Linked DNA regions of Homo sapiens: region 2 is linked to region 1. The links come from fine-mapping of genetic effects on gene expression. A gene starts in region 1. The other region holds a variant in brackets. All regions are shown on one strand. Distances are between the middles of the regions.

Region 1 (5,375 bases):
CTATCTATCATCTATCGATCTATCTGTCTATCTATCTATCTGCCTACCTACCCATCTAAAATCATGGAAAGACAAAGTTACAAGAATGGCCAACAGATGTGATCTTGTGTTCTAGCTCCAACTGACTGTCCAGAGCACTGTCCAAGAAGGATTGTGACATTCCATCCAGTCTCAGATGTAAGAGTGCCTGGATTGATTAGTAACATCAGCCACAGGCCCCTGTGCCATATGCAAACCCCTGAACTCACAAAGAAAAGTATTGAAGTTGAGAAACCAAACACAGTCTTCTTCTAGGGTGTGGGATGAGATTTAGACACATGGGATATTCATGTTGACCACTCCTGTATTGTGTGGTTTCTTATGCGTATACACTGCTTTCATGAGAACAATACATGTAATTCCATTTTTAATGTGTGTATATATTTCTATGTATATTTTGTCTATTTGTATGTATGTTTTTTTTTTTTTGAGATGGAGTTTTGTTTTTGCTGCCCAGGCTGGAGTGCAATGGTGTGATCTCGGCTCACTGCAACCACCGCCTCCCAGGTTCAAGAAATTCTCTTGCCTCAGCCTCCTGAGTAGCTGGGACTACAGGCATGTGCCACCACACCTGGCTAATTTTTGTATTTTTAGTAGAGATGGGATTTCACCATGTTTGCCAGGTTGGTGATCCGCCTACCTCAGCCTCCCAAAGTGCTGGGATTACAGGTGTGAGCCACTGCACCCAGCCTTTGTATGCATTTTTAAATGTAGGTATTATTGTACTTATACCTTTTGAGACAACAATTCCAATTTTTGATATTTAATTAATGGAACTAATCAGATCAGTGTACAAAGACGCAGGTAAGCTATTGTCCACAGTGGAGTGGTGTTTTTTTGTTTTTTGTTTTTTGAGACAGAGTCTGGCTCTGTCACCCAGGCTGGAGTGCAATGGCACCATCTTGGCTCACTGCAACCTCCATCTCCCGGGCACAGGCGATCCTCTCACCTCAGCCTCCTGAGCAGCTGGTACAACAGGCATGTGCCACCACGCCCGGCTAATTTTTGTATTTTTTGTAGCGATGGGGTTTCATCATCTTGCCCAGGCCAGCCTTGAACTTCTGAGTTCAAGCGACCTGCCCACCTTGTCCTCCCAAAATGCTGGGATTACAGGCATGAGCCACCGCGCCTGGCCAAAATATGTTTAAAATATGTTTAATATTGTTACAGTAAACACATACCAACCAACAAAAAACCAAAATGACAAATTGGATACAAATCCAGAACCGAGAGTCAGCCCTCCTCAGCTATGTTAGATGCCACAGAAACAAGCGACATATTTCTTTCTTTTTTTTGAGACAGAGTTTCACTCTTTTTGCCCAGGCTGGAGTGCAATGGCATGATCTCAGCTCACTGCAACCTCCACCTCCCAGGTTCAAGTGATTCTCCTGCCTCAGCCTCCCAAGTAGCTGTGATTATAGGCATCCACCACCATGCCCAGCTAATTTTGTATTTATTTATTTAGAGACAGAGTTTCACTCTTGTTGCCCAGGCTGGAGTGTAGTGGCACCATCTCAGCTCACTGCAACCTCCGCCTCCCGAGTTCAAGTGATCCTCCTGCCTCAGCTTCCTGAGTAGCTGGGATTATAGGTGCCCGCCACCACATCCAGCTAATTTTTGTATTATTAGTAGAGACAGCATTTCACCACATTGGCCAGGCTGGTCTCGGAACTCCTGACCTGAGGTGATCCATCTGCCTCGGCCTCCCAAAGTGCTGGGATTACAGGCATGAGCCACCGCACCCGGCCAATTTTGTATTTTTAGTAGAGATGGGGTTTCACCACGTTAGCCGGGGTGGTCTCGAACTCCTGACCTCAGGTGATCGGCCTGCCTCGGCCTCCAAAAGTGCTGGAATTACAGGCGTGAGCCACTGCGCCCGGCCAAAGACATATTTCTATCAAAGCACGTATCCAGTTTGCTTCTAAAGTGAGCATCATATTGTCATTTGCATGATTAAATTAAACTTTATGCCTTATTTGCATTTTGTTAGTTTTGCCTTTAATGTTCTTTTCTTGTTCCAGGATCCCATTTAGGATGTCATACTGCATTTAGTTGTCTTGTCTCCTTAAGCCCCTCTGGGAGATCTCTGCATTTTAAACAGGGCTTAACCATCGTGCCATTGGACTGTGACTTCTGCCAAAGACCTGGGCCACCCATCCCCAAGGCAAGATGAGGACACTCACCCCGGATCCTGAGTTCCTGACGACTGCCTTGATCTGCTGTTGGGAGCAGCACCGATTTCTGTATCTTCCTTTTCCTCCTCTTTATGGGAGAACAGGATAGTCTTTGCACTTGAGCTCTCCCAGGCAGTAACAGCTGTCACTTAGGGGACAGTGCCTGGAGAGCCTGCGGCAGCTGGACCCATCTGGTAGCTCTGGCCTTAGCACACGCCCAGGCCTGGAGCCTTCTGTATCACTCCAGGGTGACTGACCTCTTGAATGAGTGCACTCAGAGTGCAAACAGGCTCCACCTGACTTTCACAATCCGAAAGCACCAGTAGCCCAGTGCTTTCATTGTTATGTGTTGGCCTCAAGTAAAGAGAAAACATCCGGATCCTCTGGACAGGCAGGAGAATGGACTGCAGAGGACCTGCGGTCTGTGGGTTCCATCACTGCAGGGGGATATGTAGTGTGCCCACTCCAGGTCTCTATTGCCCAATATCATCAATATTTAACCACGGAGCAGGGAGCCAGGCTGGCCTTTTACAGCCTGTGCTTTCTCATAGTGAAGGTCATGGCATGATGTGAATTCCTCACAAGGAGCTGTAAAATATGACCTTTGGAGGTGGGGGTTGGGAAAGGCTGTGTGAGCACCAGTGACCCAGAGAGTAGGAAGCAGGCCAAGGCAAGTAACTTGATGGGGAAGCAGGAATGAGGTGCTCCTCCCACCTGACCAGCACCATTCAACTCTGATAGTCTATGGACTTTTCCACCAACTGGCTCCGTGCATCTTAGGCAATCATTGTTGGTTTAGCAAGGAGTGGGCTTATGTGAAATAAGCCCACTCCTTTTTTTTTTTTTTTTTTTTTTTTGAGATGGAGTCTCGCTGTGTCACCCAGGCTGGAGAGCAGTGGCACAATCTTGGCTCACTGCAACCTCCACCTCCCCGGTTCAAGCAATTCTCCTGCCTCAGCCTCCTGAGTAGCTGGGACTACAAGTATGTGCCATCATGCCCGGCTAATTTTTTCTATTTTTAGTAGAGATGGTGTTTCACCGTGTTAGCCAGGATAGTCTTGATCTCCTGACCTCGTGATCTGCCCACCTCAGACTCCCAAAGTGCTGGGATTACAGGCATGAGCCACCACGCCCAGCCGCCCACTCTTATTTCTTACTTCACAAATGAAACAGAGGCTGAGTGAGGTCACATGTCAAGCCCAAACTCCTCTATGAGTTAAACATTAGTCAACAGTGTGTACTGTGTGTGCATGGGGCAGAGGAAAGAAGACCCAACAGGGAATCTAGGGGCTGCCTGGAACTCCAGCTCCTCCTCATTTTGTAATGCATTCATTTATTCATTGAATAAATGTTACTTGAGCATCTACTGTGTAGATACATGGTAAATAAGACAGGTGAGGGCCCTGCTCCATTGGAGCTCAAACTCCAGGGGAGATAGCCAACAAAAAAGTAAGCAAAAGCATAATTAAAAGATAATTATAGCAGTGATCATTTCTGTGAATATCTTAAACAACATAATAAGATAGAAAGGGATGAGGTGGGGGAGACATGATTACTATATTACTACACTAAAAACTGAATGATGAGGGGTTAACCATGCAAAGACCTGAAAAAGCAGGTACAAAGGCCAGGCGTGGTGGCTCATGCCTGTAATCCCAGCACTTTGGGAGGCCAAGGCAGGTGTATCACCTGAGGTCAGGAGTTCGAGACCAGCCTGACCAACAAGGTGAAACTCCGTCTCTACTAAAAATAAAAAAATTAGCCAGGTGTGGTGGCAGGCGCCTGTAGTCCCAGCTACTCAGGAGGCTGAGACAGGAGAACTGCTTGAACCCGGGAGGCGGAGGTTGCAGTGAGCTGAGATCGCACCACTGCACTCCAGCCTGGGCAACAGAGCAAGACTTCATCTCAGAAAAAAAAAGAAAAGAAAAGAAAGCAAGCAGGTACAAAGACACTGAAGAAATAATGAGCTTAATGTGTCTGGAACAAAAAGGTGGCCAATATAGCTGAATCATAGTGATGAGGGGGAAGTGGCATGGAATAAAGTCAGAGGACAGACAGGAGTATCCACTCCTCATGGTGGGCCTTGTAAAACAGGGTAAGGAGTTTGTATTTTACCCTAAAAGTGATGAGAAGCCACTGGAGGGTTTAGGCAGGAAAGTGACATAATCTAATTGACATTTGTCTAAGATCACTTGGCCTGCTGGGTGGAAAATGGATTGTAGGAGAGCAAGAGAGGAACAGGGAGACCATTGGGAGGCTGTTATATTCATCCAGGCAAAACATATTAGTAGTTTGGACCAGGCTGGTGGCAGTGGAGATGATGAGAAGTGGTCAGATTCAGGGTGCATTTTGGAGAGAAAGGTAGTTGATAGATTTCAAGAGAGAAGCTCAACACTAACTCTCTTAAACACAAAAGGAATTTATTGGCTCATAAACTAGGAAGGGCAGGGTGGAGCTGACCTGAGGCATACGGGAACCAGGGATTTGACGACCCGTAGTGCTTTGTTTCTGTGGCTCTTTCCCTGCTTTTCTCTGGGTGCCAGGCTCATTACCCCAGGCTGGCCACCTCCGGGAAGCTTGACCAGATGATAGGAAACCCAGGCTCATGCTCTCATAGCTGCAGAGGAAGTAGCTACTTTTCTTAGCTCTTGTTTAAAAATTCTTGGAAAGGACTCTAATTGTCCAGCCTGAGTCATGTACCTATGTCTTGGATCAATTGTTATGGCTAGGGAGGGGGGTACCACTGATAGCCAACTCAGAGCTCATCATGCCTGTTGGGTAGCCAGGAGAGACAGGCTGTGAGCTGGACAGCCCATGCCATGTGGGTGCCTGAAGGAACCATTTGACCTCAATCCCCCTTGTCTGCCTCTGAGGAGTGTTGTGGTGCTCTAATGGGATGGTGTCCCCTTAACAAGGAGCCTGCACAATCCCAGGTTTTCCACTCTTCTGCTTCTGTGTCTTTTCTCTCCCTCCTCTTACCCTAGCTCTTTCTACTACGGCCTATCCAATAACTTGTTCCATGGTTGCCATGTGCCAGGCATTATGCCAGTGATAAACAGTCGAAAGGATTGTCCCTGCCCTCATGGAGACTCCAGTCTAGCAGAACAGACAGACGGGTGTTCATCATGTCATCACAACTTCTGTGTGACAAGTGCCATGAAG
Region 2 (5,375 bases), 29 kb before region 1:
CGTGAGGTTGTGCTCCAGAAAGCGAGCCAGCGCCGGCGCCTGGAGGAAGGCGGCGCACTCCACGGCCTGCAGCAGCTCGTCCTCCGCCGCCAGCGCCGGCCGGTCGCCGCGCAGCACCTGCAGCGTGGCGCGGAAACCTCCCGCGCTCAGAACGCCCAGGCGCACCTCTGCTGCGCGGGTCTCCCGCATGCCGGAGCGGAAGAGGCCTCGGAAGAAGCCACAGTGCTCCACCAGCAGGGCGCGGTCGGCTTGGAAGAGCTGGCCGCCCACCCACACCTGCACCAGGGTCTGTGGACCCCGTGCCATGGCGAGCTGGCCGGGCGGAGGCTGCCGCTGGGGCCTTGGGTTAGCCAGCCACCAACTCTGGGGCTCCCCTGGAGCAAAAAACTTCCCTGGGGGCTATAAATATCTCTCCCTGGCTAAAGATAGTATGGCTCATGTGATGTGGTGGCCCGCAGGCTGTATGGCTGCAGGCCCGGAGGGCATCTGGAGACCTGTGTGATCACTCATATCCTTAGAAGAAATGGTAATAATGGGTCCAGAATTGGTGGGTTCTTGGTCTGACTTCAAGAATGAAGCCGCGGACCCTCGAGGTGAGTGTTACAGCTCTTAAGGTAGCGTGTCTGGAGTCTGTCCTTTCTGATGTTCAGATGTGTTTGGAGTTTCTTCCTTCTGGTGGGTTCATGGTCTCGCTGGCTCAGGAGTGAAGCTGCAGACCTTCGCTGTGAGTGTTACAGCTCTTAAGGCAGCGTGTCTGGAGTTGTTCGTTCCTCCCAGTGGGCTTGTGGTCTCGCTGGCCTCAGGAGTGAAGCTGCAGACTTTCACGGTGAGTGTTACAGCTCATAAAAGCAGTGTGGACCCAAAAGAGTGAGCAGCAGCAAGATTTATTGCAAAGAGGAAAAGAATAAAGCGTCCACAGTGTGGAAGGGGATATGAGCGGGTTGCCACTGCTGGCTCGGGTAGCCTGCGTTTATTCTCTTATCTGGCCCCACTCACATCCTGCTGATTGGTAGAGCCAAGTGGCCTGTTTTGACAGGGCGCTGATTGGTGGGTTTACAATCCCTGAGCTAGATACAAAAGTTCTCCACGTCCCCATCAGATTAGTTAGATACAGAGTTTCCACATACAGGTTCTCCAAGGCCCCACCAGAGCAGCTAGATACAGAGTGTCGACTGGTGCACTCACAAACCTTGAACTAAACTCAGGGTGCTGATTGGTGTGTTTACAAACCTTGAGCTAGATACAGAGTGCCGATTGGTGTATTTACAATCCCTGAGCTAGACATAAAGGTTTTCCAAGGCCCCACCAGAGCAGCTAGATACAGAGTGTTGATTGGTGCACTCACAAACCCTGAGCTAGACACAGGGTGCTGATTGGTGTGTTTACAAACCTTGAGCTAGATACAGAGTGCCAATTGGTGTATTTACAATCCCTGAGCTAGACATAAAGGTTCTCCAGGGCCCCACCAGAGCAGCTAGATACAGAGTGTCAATTGGTGCACTCACAAACCCTGAGCTAGACACAGGGTGCTGATTAGTGTGTTTACAAACCTTGAGCTAGATACAGAGTGCCGATTGGTGTATTCACAATCCCTGAGCTAGACATAAAGACTCTCCACGTCCCCACCAGACTCAGGAGCCCAGCTGGCTTCACCTAGTGGATCCTGCACCAGGGCTGCAGGTGGAGTTGCCTGCCAGTCCTGCACCATGCGCTCGCATTCCTCAGCCCTTGGGTGGTTGATGGGACTGGGCACCGTGGAGCAGGGGGTAGTGCTCGTCGGGGAGGCTCGGGCCGCACAGGAGCCCATGGAGTGGATGGGAGGCTCAGGCATGGCGGGCTGCAGGTCCTGAGCCCTGCCCTGCGGGAAGGCAGCTAAGGCCCGG[T/C]GAGAAATCAAGCACAGCGCCGGTGGGCTGGCATTGCTGGGGGACCCAGTACACCCTCCGCAGCCACTGGCCCGGGTGCAAAGTCCCTCATTGCCCGGGGCCAGCAGGGCTGGCTGACTGCTCCGAGTGCGGGGCCCGCCAAGCCCACGCCCACCTGGAACTCCAGCTGGCCCGCAAGCGCCACACGCAGCCCCGGTTCCCGCTCGCGCCTCTCCCTCCACACCTCCCTGCAAGCTGAGGGAGTGGGCTCCAGCCTTGGCCAGCCCAGAAAGGGGCTCCCACAGTGCAGTGGTGGGCTGAAGGGCTCCACAAGTGCCGCCAAAGTGGGAGCCCAGGCAGAGGAGGTGCCGAGAGCAAGCGAGGGCTCTGAGGACTGCCAGCATGCTGTCACCTCTCAATAATAGTGACCATATACCGTGCACCTGCAGCGTGCGGGCGCACTGAGGGCTGCTAGGGAGATACCCATTTCACCTGCATCTTTCCAGCTGTGTGCCCTCGTGCGAATGTCCTAACCGTTCCTCATGTTCCAAATGGGACCAGTAGGCCAGGAACGGTGGCTCATTCCTGTAATCCCAGCTCTTTTGGGGGCCGAGAATGGTTGATCACCTGAGGTCAGGAGTTTGAGACCAGCCTGGCCGACATGGGGAAACCCCGTCTCTATTAAAAATACAAAAAAATTAGCCGGGCGTGGTGGCACGTGCCTGTAATACCAGCTACTTTATGAGGCTGAGGCACGAGAACAGCTTGAACTCGGGAGGCTGAAGTTGCAGTGAGCCGAGCTCGTGCCATTGCACTCCAGCCTAGGCAACAGAGTGAGGATCTGTCTCAAAAAAAAAAAATTAATTAAAAAATAAAATGGGGCCAATAATAACACCTATTTCACAGTCATGGGACAGTATCCGAAATATCCCGGTTGAGGCTGAAAGACTTTAGGTAACTTGTCCAGGGTCATTCAGCTAGGAAGAAGCTGGGGCAGAATGAATACCCACCTCACCCCTTCAGCTCAGAGGAGTGGGACAGGCAGGTTGGAGAACAAGGCAGAAATGGAGCAAGTACATTGGGCCAGGCTGGGGTACAGGACCAGGGTTTTAATTTGGCTTGGGCTTCTGACTCTGACTCTGAGCCAGTCCAATCTCTTTTTGAGTCTCAATTTTCTTCCTGAAAAATGGGAAAGGTAGCAACCCTGCTTTGCAGATGAGCATCCCATAAAGCCCCTGACTTGGGATGGGGATGGGAATTCCACACTTGCTGCGAGGCTCCAGATCCTGGGAAAAGGAATTGGGGCTGCCTAGGGGATCATATGCTTGTGGATGGGAAGAAGGGCTTCCTGAAATAATAATAGCTAACACTTTAATTGCATTATGTGTCAGGCACTGTTGTAAGCACTTTATACTAAGTCCTTACAACAATCCCAGGAGTAGATACTATTATTTCTCCCCCCATGGATATTATCCATTTATTGCTTATAGCAACACTATGAATTAGAAATTATTAATGGCCTTATTTCATATATGAAGAGACTGAAGCACCAAGAGGTTTAGTCACATAGCCAGAGAGTGGCAGACCTAGGCCTGGAATGCAGCCAGCCTGATTCTAAAGCAGGGGTCCCCAACCCTGGGGCCATGGACCTTAGGAACCAGGCCGCGCAGCCAGAGGTGAGCAGTGAGCAAGCAAAGCTTCATCTATATTTACAGCCGCTCCCCATCCTCATTACTGCCTGAGTGCTGCCTTCTGTCAGATCAGTGGCAGCAGCATTTGATTCTCATTGGAGGGCGAACCCTATTGTGAACTGCATGTGGGAGGTATCTAGGTTGCCTGCTCCTTATGACAATCTAATGCCTGATGATCTGTCACTGTCTCCCATCACCTCCAGATGGGACTGTTTAGTTGCAGGAGAACAAGCTCAGGACACCCATGGATTCTACATTATGGCAAGTTGTGTAAGTATTTCATTATATGTTATAATAATAATAGAAATAAAATGCACAATAAATGTAATACGCTTGAATAATTCCGAAACCATCTCCCCTCCGCTGTCTGTGGAAAAACTGTCTTTTACAAAACCAATCCCTGGTGCCAAAAAGGTTGGGGACTGCTAGAGGGCATGCCCATACCACTGTGTTTTTTGTTGTCGGTTTTTGTTTGTTTGTTTGGTTCGTTGGTTTGGGGTTTTTTTGTTTGTTTGTTTCTTTTTTTGAGACGGAGTCTCACTCTGTCACCCAGAGTGACAGAGTAACCCACACCTGGTTAATTTTTGTATTTTCAGTAGAGACGGGGTTTCACCTTGTTGGCCAGGCTGGTCTTGAACTCTTGACCTCAAGTGATCCTCTCACCTCGGCCTCCCAAAGTGCTGGGCCATACCACTGTGCTCCGATGCCTCTCTGTGCTACAAATGCTGGGCAGTCACCTTGTGTCAGGAGGGCATAGCTGAAAGGCACCTCAGGCTCATATGGTTCAATCCTCTCACAGTGGAGGGAAGTGCTCAGGGTCTTGTAGCTTGAAGCAGACAGCCTCAGGCCTCCTGCTGCCCACTCCATGGCACTTTTCCCACTACACAGAACTTTTCTAGGTGACCAGCTAAAACTATGGGTCCAAAAGTGGAGCTTGGGATGGAATGGAGCTTAATAATTATCTCCTCTTGCCACCTATTCTAAGGTGAGGAAACTGAGGCCCAGACGTGTAAAATGGTATCTGCCATTCAGATGTTTAGCTCCCCATCCTTACCTGCAGGCCTTCTTAGGGAGAATGAGTGGCTCACAATGACCAAGTAGAAGGTGGGAAGAGGCAGGGGAACTTCTCTCCCCCTTAGGATACATATGCATAGATCCTCACGTATGAATCTGCAGAGCCAACACAAATGTGCCTCCCCTGCTAGGGAACTCCCATCCAGTTCACTCCATCAAAGCAGTGATGGGATGTGGGGACCACTTGTGTGAGCCTGGGAAGCCAGAGGCCTGGAGGAGGCAGCCAGAAATATCTCTGACTCTGCCCCAGGGACCAGACAGGAAGAGGAGGAGGAGATGGGGGGATGGGTGGGCAGAAGTCCCCATGAATACTATCCCAGGCCCTCTGCCAGTTTCTTTCTTTCCCCAAGGCCAGATATTGGCTGAATGGTCTGGGATGTCCAGGCAGCAGGCATGACAGTCCCAATCTTGGGGACCAGTGGGCTCTCAGTGCTGGGTCTTGACTGTGTCCTTGCTGGTGGCCTTAGTGGTAGGGAAAGAGTGTCTGACTATTCCCATTTCACAGACGAGGAAACAAAGGCTTAGAAATGATTTGGGCTTTTCCTTGGTTATGAATGGGGATGTGAGGCTCAATCGAACCCTGCCCACTGACCCTAGCTGCCACTCCTCACCTGCACTAGCCTTGTCTCAGGGCAGGGAAACAGTTGCCTTCTGCTGGGGGCAGGGCTGGAGAAGGGCTGACTCCCAGGGGGCCAGGGCTGCTGCATAGTCCCGGGACTACAGTTCCCTCCCAAATGGCCTGTTCCAG

Direction of the effects. Alleles are on the strand shown, and positions count from the first base shown. SD is a standard deviation of normalised expression in the study named.
For the expression in hypothalamus of the gene that starts at base 2,418 in region 1, allele C in region 2 goes with a lower level than allele T (small effect, 0.30 SD a copy in GTEx).

The links. PIP is the estimated chance that this variant, and not a neighbour inherited with it, causes the effect. A credible set is the group of variants that fine-mapping cannot tell apart.
Region 2: its variant is the best candidate, but not a certain one, in a credible set for the expression of SLC51B in hypothalamus (GTEx, PIP 0.70).

Annotation. Positions count from the first base shown.
Region 1 is chr15:65,042,430-65,047,804 of GRCh38, reverse strand. SLC51B (SLC51 subunit beta) reads right to left here and starts at 2,418. Exons shown (of 4, transcript NM_178859.4): 1 at 2,223-2,418. It also overlaps a transcript of RASL12 not described here.
Region 2 is chr15:65,071,747-65,077,121 of GRCh38, reverse strand. It overlaps KBTBD13 (kelch repeat and BTB domain containing 13), which reads right to left and starts at 376. Exons shown (of 1, transcript NM_001101362.3): 1 at 1-376. The coding sequence starts at 306. It also overlaps a transcript of RASL12 not described here. RefSeq lists an enhancer at 4,966-5,375. The variant T/C (reference allele first, on the strand shown) is at 1,884.